Regions from separate parts of the Homo sapiens genome. Here region 2 is linked to region 1. A link means that fine-mapping ties the variant in region 1 to the plasma level of a protein whose gene starts in the linked region. Region 1 holds a variant in brackets. A gene starts in the other region. All regions are shown on their reverse strands.

Evidence for each region. PIP is the chance, under the fine-mapping model, that this variant and not a neighbour inherited with it causes the effect. The UK Biobank Pharma Proteomics Project read protein levels with antibody pairs (Olink). The fine-mapping took linkage between variants from a reference panel, not from the people measured, so its PIPs are less certain.
Region 2: APLP1 starts here. The variant in region 1 is fine-mapped to the plasma level of the APLP1 protein (UK Biobank, PIP above 0.99).

The regions. Positions count from the first base shown.
Region 1 is chr10:69,093,867-69,101,866 of GRCh38, reverse strand. It overlaps SRGN (serglycin), which reads right to left. Exons shown (of 3, transcript NM_002727.4): 2 at 4,636-4,783. Among named protein-coding and RNA genes, the nearest start is that of SRGN, 9.8 kb to the right of the region's middle. The variant C/T (reference allele first, on the strand shown) is at 4,771.
Region 2 is chr19:35,863,502-35,869,985 of GRCh38, reverse strand. It overlaps APLP1 (amyloid beta precursor like protein 1), which reads right to left and starts at 1,412. Exons shown (of 17, transcript NM_001024807.3): 1 at 1,203-1,412; 2 at 176-319. The coding sequence starts at 1,349. KIRREL2 (kirre like nephrin family adhesion molecule 2) reads right to left here. Exons shown (of 15, transcript NM_199180.4): 14 at 5,273-5,338; 15 at 2,850-3,829. The coding sequence ends at 3,494. LOC107985317 (a long non-coding RNA gene) reads left to right here and starts at 629. Exons shown (of 4, transcript XR_001753932.2): 1 at 629-894; 2 at 1,856-2,111; 3 at 3,393-3,499. RefSeq lists silencers at 1,172-1,241, 1,332-1,591.

The DNA of each region.
Region 1 (8,000 bases):
GTTGCCCAGGCAGGCTGGTCCTGAACTCCTGGGCTCAAGTGATCCTCCTGCCTTGGCCTCCCGAAGTGCTGGGATTACATGCATGGCCCAGTTAGCTGTTTTTGAAGGCAATTAAGGATCAAGTAAGCTGAAAATAGAGAAGTAATCAGTGACTTTGTCAACCAGGGTGGAGTGTAGGAACAGAAGTCCAGCCACAGAGGGGGTGAGGAAAGGAGGGGGCAGGCATGGGTGGCCCTTTCAGGAGGTGTTATTGTGAAGAGGAGCAGAGAAGGGCAACCACTGGAGAAGACGCAGAGTCAAAGGAGAGATGTTGCCTAAACATAGGAGATACTAAAGTCCACCCCTATACTGATGGGAAGAAGACACTGAGTTCAGAGAGATAACTGCAGAATGGAAGTCCTGGAGAAGATGCATGGGAAAAGGATACCAGCCACAAAGAGAGGTGGCCTTGGAAGCTGCAACAGCCAGGGTCCAATCAGGAAACTTCTCCAGATATTTAACACAGAGGGAATTCCTCATACAGGTGATGGAGGAGAAGTGAAGCTAAATGGGGGATAGCGAGGTAACCCAGAGATTAGCAATAGCAAGAAAATATTTCCTTCGGCCAGGCACAGTGGCTCATGCCTGTAATCCCAGCACTTTGGGAGGACGAGGCAGGCAGATCATTTGGGGTCAGAAGTTCAAGACCAGCCTGGTCAACATGGCAAAACCCCGTCTCTACCAAAAATACAAAAATTAGCTGGGCATAGTGGCACACCCTGGAGGCTGAGGCAGGAGAATCACTTGAACCCGGGAGGCAGAGGTGGCAGTGAGCTGAGATCGCACCACTGCACTCCAGCCTGGGCAACAAGAGTGAGACTCTGTAAAAAAAAAAAAAAAAAGAAAGAAAGAAAGAAAAAAATACTTCCCTCCTTGGGCTACAGCGATAGTGGAAGGAGGTTGTCTATTTCCTGAGCCCAGGGACTAGAGGCATCTGGTGGGAGCTGAGGCCATGGGCAAAACAGAGTCCTGCCCAAGGTGCCATCCCAGGCAGGGAGTAAGGAGAAGAAACATACCTCTCTCCCTTCCTCCCAAGCTCTCAGTCTCCCGTCCTTGCCTCCCATTGGCCAAAGTCAGCCACAGCCCTGGGAGCCTGAGAAATGCAGACGCCAGGGGTCAGTTCCACCGCCACCCCCACCCCACAGCCAATACAGAGCAGGGCCAGGGAAGGACAGGAGGATCTGAGGGCAAAAGGGTTTGGGATCAGCACAGAAGCAAGGACCATTCTTTCGCAATGACGGGAAAGAAAGCACAGGGTCAGGGTGAGAAGCAGTTACTGGCTTTGGGGAAGGAAAATAGAGATTTGAGAAGAGGAGGAATGGTGTGCAAGAGTTCTTTTGGAGAATTTGAGCTATTCTCTTAACATTTTATTTTATTTTTTAATTTTAGTTTTAATTGTATTTATTTATTTTAAATGTGTTTATTTATTTTGAGACAAGGTTTTAGTCTGTCACCCTGGCTGGAGTGCAGTGCCACACCATGGCTCACTTCAGCCTTGACCTCTCAGGATCAAGCAATCCTCCCACCTCAGCCTTTCGAGTAGCTGGACCACAGGCATGCATGGCTAGTTTTTGTGTCTTTCTATAGAGACGAGGTTTCTCCATGCTTGGCTAATTTTTGTATTTTTCTGTAGAGACAGGATTTCTCCATGTTACCCAGGCAGGTCTCAAAGCAATCTGCCTGCCTTGGCCTCCCAGTCTGCCTGCCTCGGCCTCTCAATAGCTGGGATTACAGGCGTGCCACCATGCCCAGCTAATTTTTGTATTTTTAGTAGAAATGGGTTTCCGCCATGTTGGCCAGGCTGATCTTGAACTCCTGACCTCAAGCTATCCGCCTCGGCCTCCCAAAGTGTTGGGATTACAGGCGTGAGGCACAGCGCCGGGCCACTAATTTTTAGAGATGGGGTCTTGCCGTGTTGCCCAGGCTGGTCTCAAATTCTTGGCCTCAAGTGATTCTCCCACCTCAGTCTCCCAAACTGGGGGGATTACAGGCATGAGCCACTGCAGCCTAACATTTTAGATTTAAATGAATTACTATTGAAACCAATGATTTAAAGTAATGAAGGATGCTGTAATATTACATTCAAACTTAATGCTGAGGCTTTAAAGTAAGAATGCAAGAGTAGGACTACAAAGTTGCATATTGAAGATTGTAATGATGTCATCACTAATGCAGTGAATACCAGTGATGGAGAAAGTCACCAGTGATGGAGAAAGTCACCAGCGCTGGGAATGGTGGCTCATGACTGTAATTCCGGCACTTTGGGAGGCTGAGGTGGGAGGACTGCTTGAGTTTAGGAGTACATGACCAGCCTGGGAAATGTACAGAGACCCCTGTCTCTACAAAAAAAAATTTTTTTAATTAGATGGGCATGGTGCTGTGTGCCTGTGGTCCCGCTACTTGGGAGGCTGAGGCAGGAAGATCACTTGAGGAGTTCGAGGCTGCAGTGAGCTATGATCACACCACTGCACTCCATCCTGGGTGACAGAGGAGACCCTGTCTCAAAAAAAAAAAAAAACAAAAGAGAAAGTTGCCAGGATCCCAAAGTGATGTGAAATGTACCTGGTTTGGAGCATGATGATTAACCCTGGCTTTGAGGAGAGTGATTTTCTAGGTTTGAGCCTGGAGATTAAAACTTTTATGATAATCCTTTTCTTAATATGTATATTTTGCTACATCCTACATAGCTTTAGTATTCATTGAATTAATGGTTTCTAATATAATTCAATTTTTTGTTACTTATGAATTTATATCAGGTCTTTTTTGCAAGTTTAAAGCAAGTTTTATGTGATCAAAAGAAGAGATTTGATTTTTGTTTTACAAGTCTTGGCTAATTATTCTTCCTTTCCCTAATTTTTTTTTTCTTTTTTTGAGACAGAGTCTTACTCTGTTGCCTAGGCTGGAGTGCAATGGCATAAATAGGGTTCACTGCAGGCTCAACATAGGCTCAAGAGATTCTCCTACCTCAGCCTCCCGAGTAGCTGGGACCACAGGTGCACATCACTATGCCTAGCTAATTTTTGTATTTTTTGTAGAGACAGGGTCTTGCTGTATGGCCCAGGCTGGTCCCAAACCTCCTGGGCTCAAGGGATCCTCCCACCTCAGCCTCCCAAGGTGCTGGGATTACAGGCATGAGCCTCTGCACCTGGCCATTTTTAAAAATAATTACCAACTACTTGAAGAACATTTTTTTAATATAAAAAATGTATTTGAAATAGAGATAGGGTCTCACTATGTTGCCCAGGCTGGCCTCAAACTCCTGGGCTCAAACAATCCTCCCGCCTCGGCCTCCCAAAGTGCTGGGATTACAGGCATGAGCCACCACACCTGGCAGAAGAACATTTTAATCACCTCCTCCAAAAAAAACCCTCATACCCATTAGCAGTCACTCCTTATTCCTCCCTTTCCCCAGCCCCTGTAACCCACTAATCTACTTTCTGCCTCTAGGGATTTGCCTATTCTGGACATTTCATCTAAATGGAATCATACAATATGTGGCTTTTGGTGTCTGGCCTTCCTTCACTCTGCATAATGTTTCCAAGGTTTATCTATGTTGTAGCATGTATCAGTACTTCATTCTTTTTATGACCCAATAATATTCCTTTGTATGCTTATACCACATTTTGCTTATCCATTCAGTTAATTATTGGATTTTTATATATAGTGTGTTCTGTTTACACAAATAAAACAATGTTCAATCATTTTCAATACCTGTTGATGAAAAGTCCTCAATGCTCCTCTCTACCATCCACAAAAAAAATTTCAAAAACATAGGTGAATCATGTATACTCGCACATGTCATATGCCAGTATATACAGTACACTTTTACCATGTACTGCAGAGTAAGAGCCAAACTACCAAAGCAAGAGCTCGAAGCAAAACACTCTGGACAGCTTGAAGAAAAACACTCCCACATCTGTGCCAAGAGGTTGTGAAATTACAGACACTTTAAAATTAGAGAAAAGGCCGGGTACAGTGGCTCATGCTTGTAATCCCAACACTTTGGGAGGCCAAGGTGGGTGGATCACCTGAGGTCAGGAGTTTGAGACCAGCCTGGCCAAGATGATGAAAGCCCGTCTCTACTAATAATACAAAAAATTAGGCCAGGCGCAGTGGCTCACGCCTGTAATCCCAGCATTTTGGGAGGTCAAGGCGGGCGGATCACTAGGTCAGGAGATCGAGACCATCCTGGCTAATAAGGTGAAACCCCGTCTCTACTAAAAATACAAAAAAATTAGCCGGGCGTGGTGGCGGGTGCCTGTAGTCCCAGCTACTCGGGAGGCTGAGGCGGGAGAATGGCGTGAACCCAGGAGGTGGAGCTTGCAGTGAGCCGAGATTGCGCCACTGCACTCCAGCCTGAGCGACAGACTGAGACTCCGTCTCAAAAAAAAAAAAAAAAATTAGCTGGGCATGGTGGCAGGCGCCTGAAATCCCAGCTGCTCCAGAGGCTGAAGCAGGAGAATCGCTTGAACCCAGGAGGCGGAGGTTGCAGTGAGCTAAGATTGCGCCATTGCACTCCAGCCTGGGCAAGAAAAGTGAAACTCCGTCTCAAATAAATAAGTAATTAATTAATTAATTAGAGAAAAGTCCACTTACGGAAAAAGGTCAGTCCTCAGACGGGGGATCTTGTTGGATTCACCTGGAAGTAGTTCGAACATTGGTCCTTTTTCTTCAAGGCAGTTTGCAGAATTACTGTCTGGATTGCAGCGCACCCATTGGTACCTGGCTCTC[C/T]GCGTAGGATAACCTGCCCGAGGAACCCACATTGTTACTAAGTATCTACTACACAGCTTCTAATCACTCTGTCCTAAGAAGTTTTTATTTTTATTTTTTTTTCGAGACAGGGTCTCAGTCGGCTGCCCAAGCTGGAGTGCAGTACTGTGATCATAGCTCACTGCAACCTTGAACTCCTGGGCTCAAGCCATTCTCCCACCCCAGCCTCTTGAGTAGCTGGGAATACAGGGGCACCACAACGCCCAGCTAGTTTTGTTTTGTTTTTGTTTGTTTGTTTGTTTTTTGGAGAGATGGGGGTCTCACTATGTGCCCAGGCTGGTCTCAAACACCTGGGCTCAAGCAGTCCTCCTGCCTTGGCCTCCCAGTGTGCTGAGATTACAGGAATGAGCAACTGCACCCCACCCGCCCTAAGAAGGTTTTAACTAAATAGATTCTAAATTTGGTAAAAGGCAAAATGTAGACAGATTTTGTGCCCATTCATATAACAGCAGCACCCACTATGTGCCAACATTTTATATAAATTGTCCTTCTTACAACACTCCAAAAAGTAGCAGTTTAAAGTTAGAATAGGCTTTGGAATCAGCTGCCTGGAGTGAAGTCCCAGGTCTGCTGACTAGTTATGGAACCTTAACTTCTCTGAACCCTCACTGTAATATGAAGATACTAATAGTGTCATAAGCCTATCACAAAAATTAAATGAGAAAATACACTTAGAGAATTTAACACAGTGCCAGGCACACAGTAAGCACTTGATAATATTAACTGTTGTTACTTTTGTACTATTATCTCAATTTTACACAAAAGAAAATTGCAGCCACACAGGCGCTAGGATTCCAACCCACATCTGACCCCAAAGCCCACATCTTTTCATAGAGATGAGTCAAATCAGGTTCAGAAAGGGGAAGGAACACACTGTGGAGTACCCGTGGTATCACAGAATTCTAGTTCTTGTGTTTTAGGGCCATACAGTATCCTTAGGAATGAAAAGTAGATAACAATTTGTCCTGTGTCTTTGCACTCAGATTTCACAAGAACAAGTCTCCTCTATTCACAGAGCACCAGGCAGCTTGGAATATCTGAGTCTCAGCTTCTTCTGAATTTCATTTCTATGGAAAAGGCTCCAAATCTGATATTATGAGGTTATATAGGAGATTTATTTATGTATTTATTTTATTTTATTTTATTGAGAGAGAGTCTTGCTGTGTCGCCCAGGCTGGAGTGCACTGTCACGATCTCGGCTCATGGCAACCTCCACCTCCCGGGTTCAAGCAATTTTTCTGCCTCACCCTCTGGAGTAACTGGGATTACAGGCACTCACCACCACGCCCAGCTAATTTTTAGTATTTTTAGTAGAGATGGGGTTTTGCCATGTTGCCCAAGCTGGTCTCAAACTCCTGAGCTCAGGCAATCCACCCACCTTGGCCTCTGAAAATGTGAGGATTACAGGCGTGAGCCACCATGCCCGGCCTATATAGGAGGTTCTTTGTTAGCTAATGAAATAAAATCTTCCTTCCTCAGTTTAGCAAAGACAAAGGCCTGGTGGTGAGAAATACTTCACCGCCCTTCAAAAAGTTCATCTCCTCCCCACTCCAAGCATATACTTTATTCTAATGAGTGCAACTAATAATTACCTAGCAAGAAGGAGCATGTCTAGGATTCTTGAAAGTCAGGAAGGGTAGTTTTAAAGCTCACCACAAAATAATGGAAAACATTCAGATAAATTACAAGGCATCAACTCATAAGAGAATACTAACCAAATGAAGAAAAGTACTTTTTTTTTTTTTTTTTTGAGATGAAGTCTCGCTCTGTTGCCCTGGCTGGGATGCAGTGGCACAATCTCGGCTCACTGCAACCTCTGCCTCCCAGGTTCAAGCGATTCTCCTGCCTCAGCCTCCCGAGTAGCTGGGATGACAGGTGCCCACAATCATATCCAGCTAATTTTTGTATTTTTAGTAGGGATGGGGTTTCACCATGTTGGCCAGGCTGGTCTCGAACTCCTGACCTCAGGTGATCCACCCGCCTCAGTCTCCCAAAGTGCTGGGATTACAGGTGTGAGCCACCACACCCGGCCGAAAGTACTTTTTATGGAAAAGACAATGTGGCATTGTAGAAAAACCTATACTTAAAAATGAGTGAGAGGGTGAGAGGCGGGTAGGCAAAAACTTTTTTTTTTAATAAAATAAAAATAAAAATTAGGTTGGGTGTGGTAGCTCATGCCTGAAATCCCAGCACTTTGGGAGACTGAGGTGGGAGGATCACTTGAGCCCAGGAGTTCAATACAGGCTGGGCAACATAGAGAGACTCCCATTTCTACCAAAAAAGAGAAAAAAGATTTTAAAAATTAGCTGGATGTGGTAGCACACATCTGCAGTCCCAGCTACTTAGGAGGCTGAGGCAGGAAGATTGCTTGAGACTGGGAGGTCACAGTGAGCCAAGATTGCACGGCTGCACTTCAGCCTGGGTGACACAGCGAGACTGTCTCAGAAGAAAAAAGTTTATTTACAAAATTAAAAATAAATAAAAATAACTGAGAAAATCAGAATACCTCTTTGCATGAATAATAGTTTCAATTATATAAACAGACATGGGGGGAAAAATGGAAGGAAATACACAAAAATAACTGGAGGTAGAATCTTTGGTGATTTTTTTTCTCATTTTGTTTTCTAAATTGCTATAATAAACAATATTCCTCTAAAAACATAAACATTAAACACTTTAATATAGAAAACAGTAAATATTCTCCCATTGGATTTTCTTTCTTTTCTTTGTAACTATATATTATTCTATCATAATCTTTCCTATGATTCCTGAGTATAGCTTACAATGTCTGGTCTGGGAGAGCTGTTTGTCCAAAATGAGCTAACTCTGCCACTGCCTGGAGGCTGGGGATAAGGCAGGCAAAATGACCTTTCAATGTCTGCCCCTTACTGGCTGTGTGATCTTGGCCAACTTAAACTTCCTGTGCCTCAATTTTCTCATCTGTAGGATGGGGCAGTAATAGAGTTAATAAGGAGATACAAATGTTAGGTTCTCAGAGTAGTACCTAGCACATAGTCAGAGCTCTTCATTGCTAGTTCCTGTCATGAAAAGGAGGAGGACAACAATGACCTATGATCTCCGAGAGTGAACATCTTATAAATTTAAATTCAAATTCCCATTCTACCATTTAGTATCTCTAGGAGTCTCAATTTATGGACTTTCTTTCTTTTCTTTTTTATTTTTCCTTATTT
Region 2 (6,484 bases), not on the chromosome of region 1:
CCTTTTCCTGACTTAGTATCTCAAAACAGGTCCCCTGCCCCTAGCATAGTTGCGCCTCTTTATTGGCCACGCCCCCCAGCCTCCACGCCTTAGATCGCGCAGCACCCTGGACCACGCCTTTTTCAAGTCTAGCTTTCTATGGGCGGCCCCGCCTCTCCCGTTCGGCCCCGCCCACCTGTCTGCAGTACTCCAGCACGCGCTGCGGGTCCCGGAGACAGCGTCGAGAGCGCTGTGGGTCTGGTTCCCAGCGGCCGGTGCGCAGGTCCCGGTGAAGGGTTAGGCGCCCGCATAGTCCAGCCACCTGGGCCGACCCCGGGGCCTGGATGGAAGTGGAAAGGACAGTGAGGGCTCGGGGGGCGTTGGCATGAGGGTCCCCTGGTTCTTTGCTCCCTAGGACCGAGACCCCCAGCACCAGCCCCCTCCCCCAAGCACCGCACACCGCCTCCATGGAGGCACCGTTCCCTGGGAAACAGCTCCCGTAGGGCGGGGGCGCCCCAGCGCTCCCGTTGCTATGGCGACCTGGGTCCCCCGGGATTCTTTCTGCCTTGTTGCCGCGGAGACAGACTCCGCCCCCACCCCAGCGCAGCCGCTCTGGAGCCCGAAGGGGTTAAACCTGAATCGCGGAGGAGGAGGCCAGAACCCAGGAGTTCTGGCCCCTCCTCCCTCCATCCCTTGCTCAGGCTCCCGTTGCAGGATGCAAAGCTGACAAGGCCTGGCTTCAGGGGCCTACAGTCCTGGACACCAGGTCCTTGAGGACTGGAGAGCTACATCTGGTTGGGGTGGGTGGTGACTGAAGGACTGGACTCCTGGGTCCTGGGAGGCTGCAAGGGCCTCCATATGGGTCCAGAGAATACAAGGGGTCTGGATTATTGGATCTAAATGCCTCGCTGCTTGGTGGGTCCTATGTCCAGGCGGGAGGGGGTTGGGGCCGAGTCACCTGGGTCTGGAGAGGGGGCTGGACTTCTGGGACCAGGGGCTCTGAATAGACCAGTTCCTATGCTCGAGATGGGAGGGGGCTGGGACGTCGCATGATGGGGGAGCTGGGGCCTGGAACCCTGGGTTCATAAATGTGATTGGGGGCGCCTGGGGGCTGACCACCTGGCTGGAAAGACCGCGCTTTCTGCCCTGGACATGTCCGCGCCGGCGTCCAGAGACCCGGTCCCGCCCCTTCCCCCATCCCCCAGGACCCGGCCCGGCCTCACCTCGGCCGCGCCGGGGCTCCCACCGGCCAGGCTCCCGATGGCGGGCTGCGCGCGCAGAAGCAGCAGCAATAGTGGCAGCAGCAGCGGCAGCGGCGGCTGGCCCGGGCGGCGACTTAGACCGCGAGCAGCGGGGCTGGCGGGCCCCATGTCCCGGCCCTTGCGCCCTCACGTCCCCTGCACTCCCGCCCGGCCCGGCCCCAGCGGTGACAGGAGCTCCCAGCGCCACCGCCGCCACCTCCTCCTCCCGCCGCCCCCGGGCTGCGCCGGCGCCGCCAGCCCCGCCCCGCGCCGGCCCCGCCTTCCTGGTCAGGACAATAGCGTGGCGGCTTCGCGCAGAGTGGAGCAGCTCGGGAACCCCGGGCGGGAGCCTGCGCCAGGCCCCCGCCCCTCGAGATTCCAGGCGTCCCGCCCCATGAAGGGCCCAGCCAGGAGTCCGGCTATGGGCTCCGCCCGTTGTGGATTTTGAGTCCTCCCGCAGGACTCTCACCCTCTTTAGACCCAGACACTCACAGTTTTGTCCTTTTCCAAGGATGCAAGCATCAGAGACCCCCATCCCCTAGTACATTCCTCTGTTGAGGGCTCAGGAATACAGGCCTCCAAAATGTCCCCAGTCAAGAAGGCAGCAGTTGAGACCTAGTCCCTTCCTCTTTCAGATCCAGAAGTCTGGGCACCTTCTCTCTCAGGACCAGAGACCAAGCCCCCAGCCCATTCTCCTTCAGACCCAGGAGTTCACTCTTCTTGCTCTGCTTCCCAAGGGTCCCAGGGGCCTGGACCTTTAACTCCTAGCTCAAGGATCCATGAACCAAAGCCCCCAGGACCTTTCTTTAAGGATCATCCAAGCAGGCACCAGCACCATGCCCACTGTGGATGCAGCACCTCAGGATTAGGGTCTGGATCTCCACGCTTGCTGTAAGGACCAGGGGATTGCCATTTTCCTACCCATAGTCTCCCCTTCCCTGCTCCACTTCAGGGCTCACTTGTTTGTCTCCTCTAATGAGAGTTAGAATTCAGTCTTCCCCAGGACCCCTGGGGCAGCCCTGTCACTTGTGTGCAACTGTGTGGACATCTATGCGTGTGTCTGTGCATACATGCCTATGTGTGTGTCTTTTCTGTTTGCAACTCATGTGTGTGTGTGCGTGTGTGTGTGTGTGTGTGTGTGTGTGAAGATGTATATTAAAAGAGCCCATGGCTGGGCACAGTGGCTCATGCCTGTAATCCCAGCACATTGGGAGGCCTAGGTGGGCGGATCACTTGAGGTCAGGAGTTTGAGACCAGCCTGGCCAACATGGTGAAACCCTGTCTACAAACAAATACAAAAATTAGCTGGGTGTGGTGGCATGCACCTGTAGTCCCAGCTACTTGGGAGGCTGAGGTGGAAGGATGGCTTGAGCCCAGGATGCAGAGGTAGCAGTGGGCTGAGATCATGCCACTGCACTCCAATGTGGGCCATAGAGCCAGATCTTGTCTCAAGAAAAAAAAAAAAAGAGCCTAGAGTGCTTTGCAGGTAGCAAGAGGCTGAGAGGTGGCTCACAGTTTTACTCCTACAGCCACCTCATAGGCTAGGGTAGAGGAGGGACCTTGGGACAGGTCTAAGGGACCCCTTCCTTGGTGGAGAGTGATAATGCCAGTAGACTCCCTAAGACACACTTGCCTCTTTGACTTTTTTTTATTATTAAACATAAATATTTTTATCCCAATATTTTGCCCCAACAGTGGTAATTCTCACTGTATCCCCACTCCTTGGGTCCAAGTCTTTCTGAGTCTTTAAGGAAAGTAAAATCAAGATGGTGGCCATCTTGGGTTCCTAGGGAGTATATGGCCATCTTGGCTGCATTTCCATTGGCCGAGCAAAGTTCCCCTCAGGGAGAGCCAGGGTGGGGCCTGGTATGCTCTTCATCTTCATCTATCCTATGCTACCTTTCCTCTCAATGCAGATGGTCATCTTGAAATATCTTCTTTCAGTGGCTAGAAACAACTTCCATCCCGGCCCCAAACTCCCAACACCCACTGCCCTGTCCCCATCTCTCCTCAAAGGGCCTACCTGCCATCTTGAATCTCTTTTACACCGGGGAATAGGTGGGCATATTGGGTGGCCATGTTGCTCCCACTTGGGGCATCTCCTTTGGCTGAGCTGACTGTATACAAATGCTCCTGACAAATGTAATGATCTTTCCCTCCCCTTGTGTTCAGTTTTGGAGGAGTAAGGTCGCCAACTTGTCCTGGCTCCTCAGAAATCAGAACAATCCATTATGGCAAGTTGGAGATCCCAGGACTCTTCCATTGGAAAGATGTCACACGTGAGTCTGGAGACGCGGGTGGCTAGGTGTGGGGAAGGCAGCATATGGGAAGGGGGGAGTCCCGGGGGCCAGATCTGGGGGCCCAAAGGATGTGGGTTTGATGTAGCTGGTGAAAGCTCGAGGGTGGGGTGTGGTGAGATAGCCTGCCCTGGCTCTGTAAAGTCTGCAGGGGGGGACCATGCCCAGGTGTGGGTTGAAGTCATAGAAGGTAGGGGTCCCTGGGGGCCCAAGGGGGGAGGGTGGTGGCAGGAAGAGACCTCCTCCAGGGGCTTCGCCAAGGCTCAGGCTCACACTGACTCCTCGGACCTTGTAGTAACCGTTGGTTGGGTCCTGAGGGGACAAATGGGACTCAGTAAAGTCTGTGAGCGTGCAGGGGGGATGAGGGTCACTGATGGAGAGACACACTGAAATAGACCAGACCTTGAGAGAGACAAAAAGAGACAGGAGTGGGCAGAGACACAGAGACACACATGGACTGGGAGAGAGAGAAAGTGAGACAGAGGAACAGTGATAAGAGGCAAATGGATAGGACATAGGCAGAGAAAGGTAGAGACGGAGGGATATAGGCCTGCTGAGGGGTGTCGGTGTGGAAGGTGCAGAGGGAACAGGAGAGAGACACTCACCTGCCCAACAGCCTCTAGGCTTTGATTCAGTGTCACACCCTGTGTTGCTGCTACAAGGCATGTCACTAGGATAGAACTGGACCCTGTCCTCACAGAATCCCACACCAAAGGAAAAATGACAGATCATGAGACAGTACCCAGAGGGGTCAGGGCTGTGCCTGGGAAAGGCATAGGCAATGACAGGGGCTGTGATGGTAGAGCCCTCAGCATAGTGGGTGGGATAAGGAAGCCCAGATCAGAGTGGTCATGGCTGTGATGGGTGGAACACAGGCAAAATGATCGAGCTGTCATGACGGAAGCATGGGCTTCCTAGAACAAGAAATGTCTGAGCTGAGACTGGAGGACTAAAGGAAGGAATTAGGTAGACATGGGAAGGAAGGTAGGAGTGTTTCAGGCCAAGAGAATGGCATGTCGGCTGGGCACAGTGGCTCACGCCTGTAATCCCAGCACTTTGGGAGGCTGGGGCGAGCGGATCACTTGAGGTCAGGAGTTCCAGATCAGCCTGGCCAACATGGTGAAACTCCATCTCTACTAAAAATACAAGAAAAATTAGCCAGCTATTAGGGAGCCTGAGGCAGGAGAATGGCTTGAACCCAGGAGGCAGAGGTTGCAGTGAGCTGAGATTGCACCACTGCACTCCAGCCTGGGCAACAGAATGAGACTCCGTCTCAAAAAAAAAAAAAAAAAAAAGAAGAGAGAGAATGGCATGTGCTAGGTACGCAGGAGAGAGAGAGAGAGAGAAGTGCTCTGGCCTGGGGATGGCCTGGAGTCAATGTGGCTGTCCTGAGGTAGGACCCCAGAGGAAGAACCAGTCTGGGGAGATGTGGGGCCAGTGTAGGACCTGGTGGCTGAAAGGGGGCTTGACCGTGATGAGGAGAGCACAGGCAGGGTGAGCCCTGGTCTGGGGCTCCAGATGGAGGCTAGGGCTGGGACAGATGTGTGGGAAGAGTCTGCAGACAGGCAAACTGAGGCTGGGAGCTGAGTGAGATGGCCCAGGGGGCAGGAGGAGTGGGGTGGGGAGCTGAGTCCCAACTCTGAGGACAACAGAAGGAAAAAGGAGGGGACAGGCGTGGGAGAGAGACGGAAACACAATGAAGGGAGCCCCGCCTCTCCCAACAGTGAAGGGAGCCCCACCCCTCTCAACACTCACCTTGGTCTCCAGAGTCCCTTCCTCCTCCAGAACCAGATCACTGTGGTCAGTGTGCACAATGGGGCCCTGGGGTAGGGAACTTAGTGAGAGGGAATAGTCAGAGGATCCCCCCGCCCCAATGCCAGACCCCAAGGACCTTCAGCCAGCCAGTGGAGGCCAGGCAGGAGGGAGTAAGAGCACCCAAGAGCTGGGGACTGCACTCAGGACAATAAAAGGGCTGTAAGAAGCCAGCACAGTGGCTCATGCATGTAATCCCAGCACTTTGGGAGGCCGCAGCAGGAGTATCACTTGAGGCCAGAAGTTTGAGACCAGCCTGGCTAACATGCCGAAACTCTGTCTCTACTAAAAATGCAAAAAATAGGCAGGCATGGTGGCAGGCACCTGTAATTTCAGCTACTCAGGAGGCTAAGGAACGAGAATCACTTGAACTGGGAGGTGGAGGGTGCAGTGAGTCTGGATTGCACCACTGCATTCCAGCTTGGACGACAGAGCAAGACTCTATCTCAAAAACAACAACAACAACAACAACAACAACAAAAACGGGCTGTGGGGACATACTGGGCCTAGGGAATAATTGGGTCAGGGGCATGGACTTGGGTGACATTTGGGTGTGGGGTCACTGTTAAGACTAGAGCCCTTGGCCGGGCGCGGTGGCTCACGCCTGTAATCCCAGCACTTTGGGAGGCCGAGACGAGCGGATCACGAGGTCAGGAGATCCAGACCATCCTGGCTAACACGGTATACACCTCGTCTCTACTAAAAATACAAAAAAATTAGCTGGACATGGTGGCGGGTGCCTGTAGTCCCAGCTACTCTGGAGGCTGAGGCAGGAGAATGGTGTGAACCCGGGAGGTGGAGCTTGCAGTGAGTCGAGTTCGCGCCACTGCACTCCAGCCTGGGCTACAGACCAAGACTCCGTCTCAAAAAAAAGAAAGAAAGAAAAAAAAAGACTTGAGCCCTCAGGCCGGGCGTGGAGGCTCATGCCTGTAATCCTAGCACTTTGGGAGGTCGAGGCGGGTGGATCACCTGAGGTCAGGAGTTTGAGACCAGCCTGGCCAACATGGTGAAACCCAATCTCTACTAAAAATACAAAATCAGTCAGGCGTGGTGGTGGGCGCCTGTAATCGCAGCTACTCAGGAGGCTGAGGCAAGAGAATCACTTGAACCAGGGAGGCAGAGGTTGCAGTGAGCCGAGATCGCAGCACTGTACTC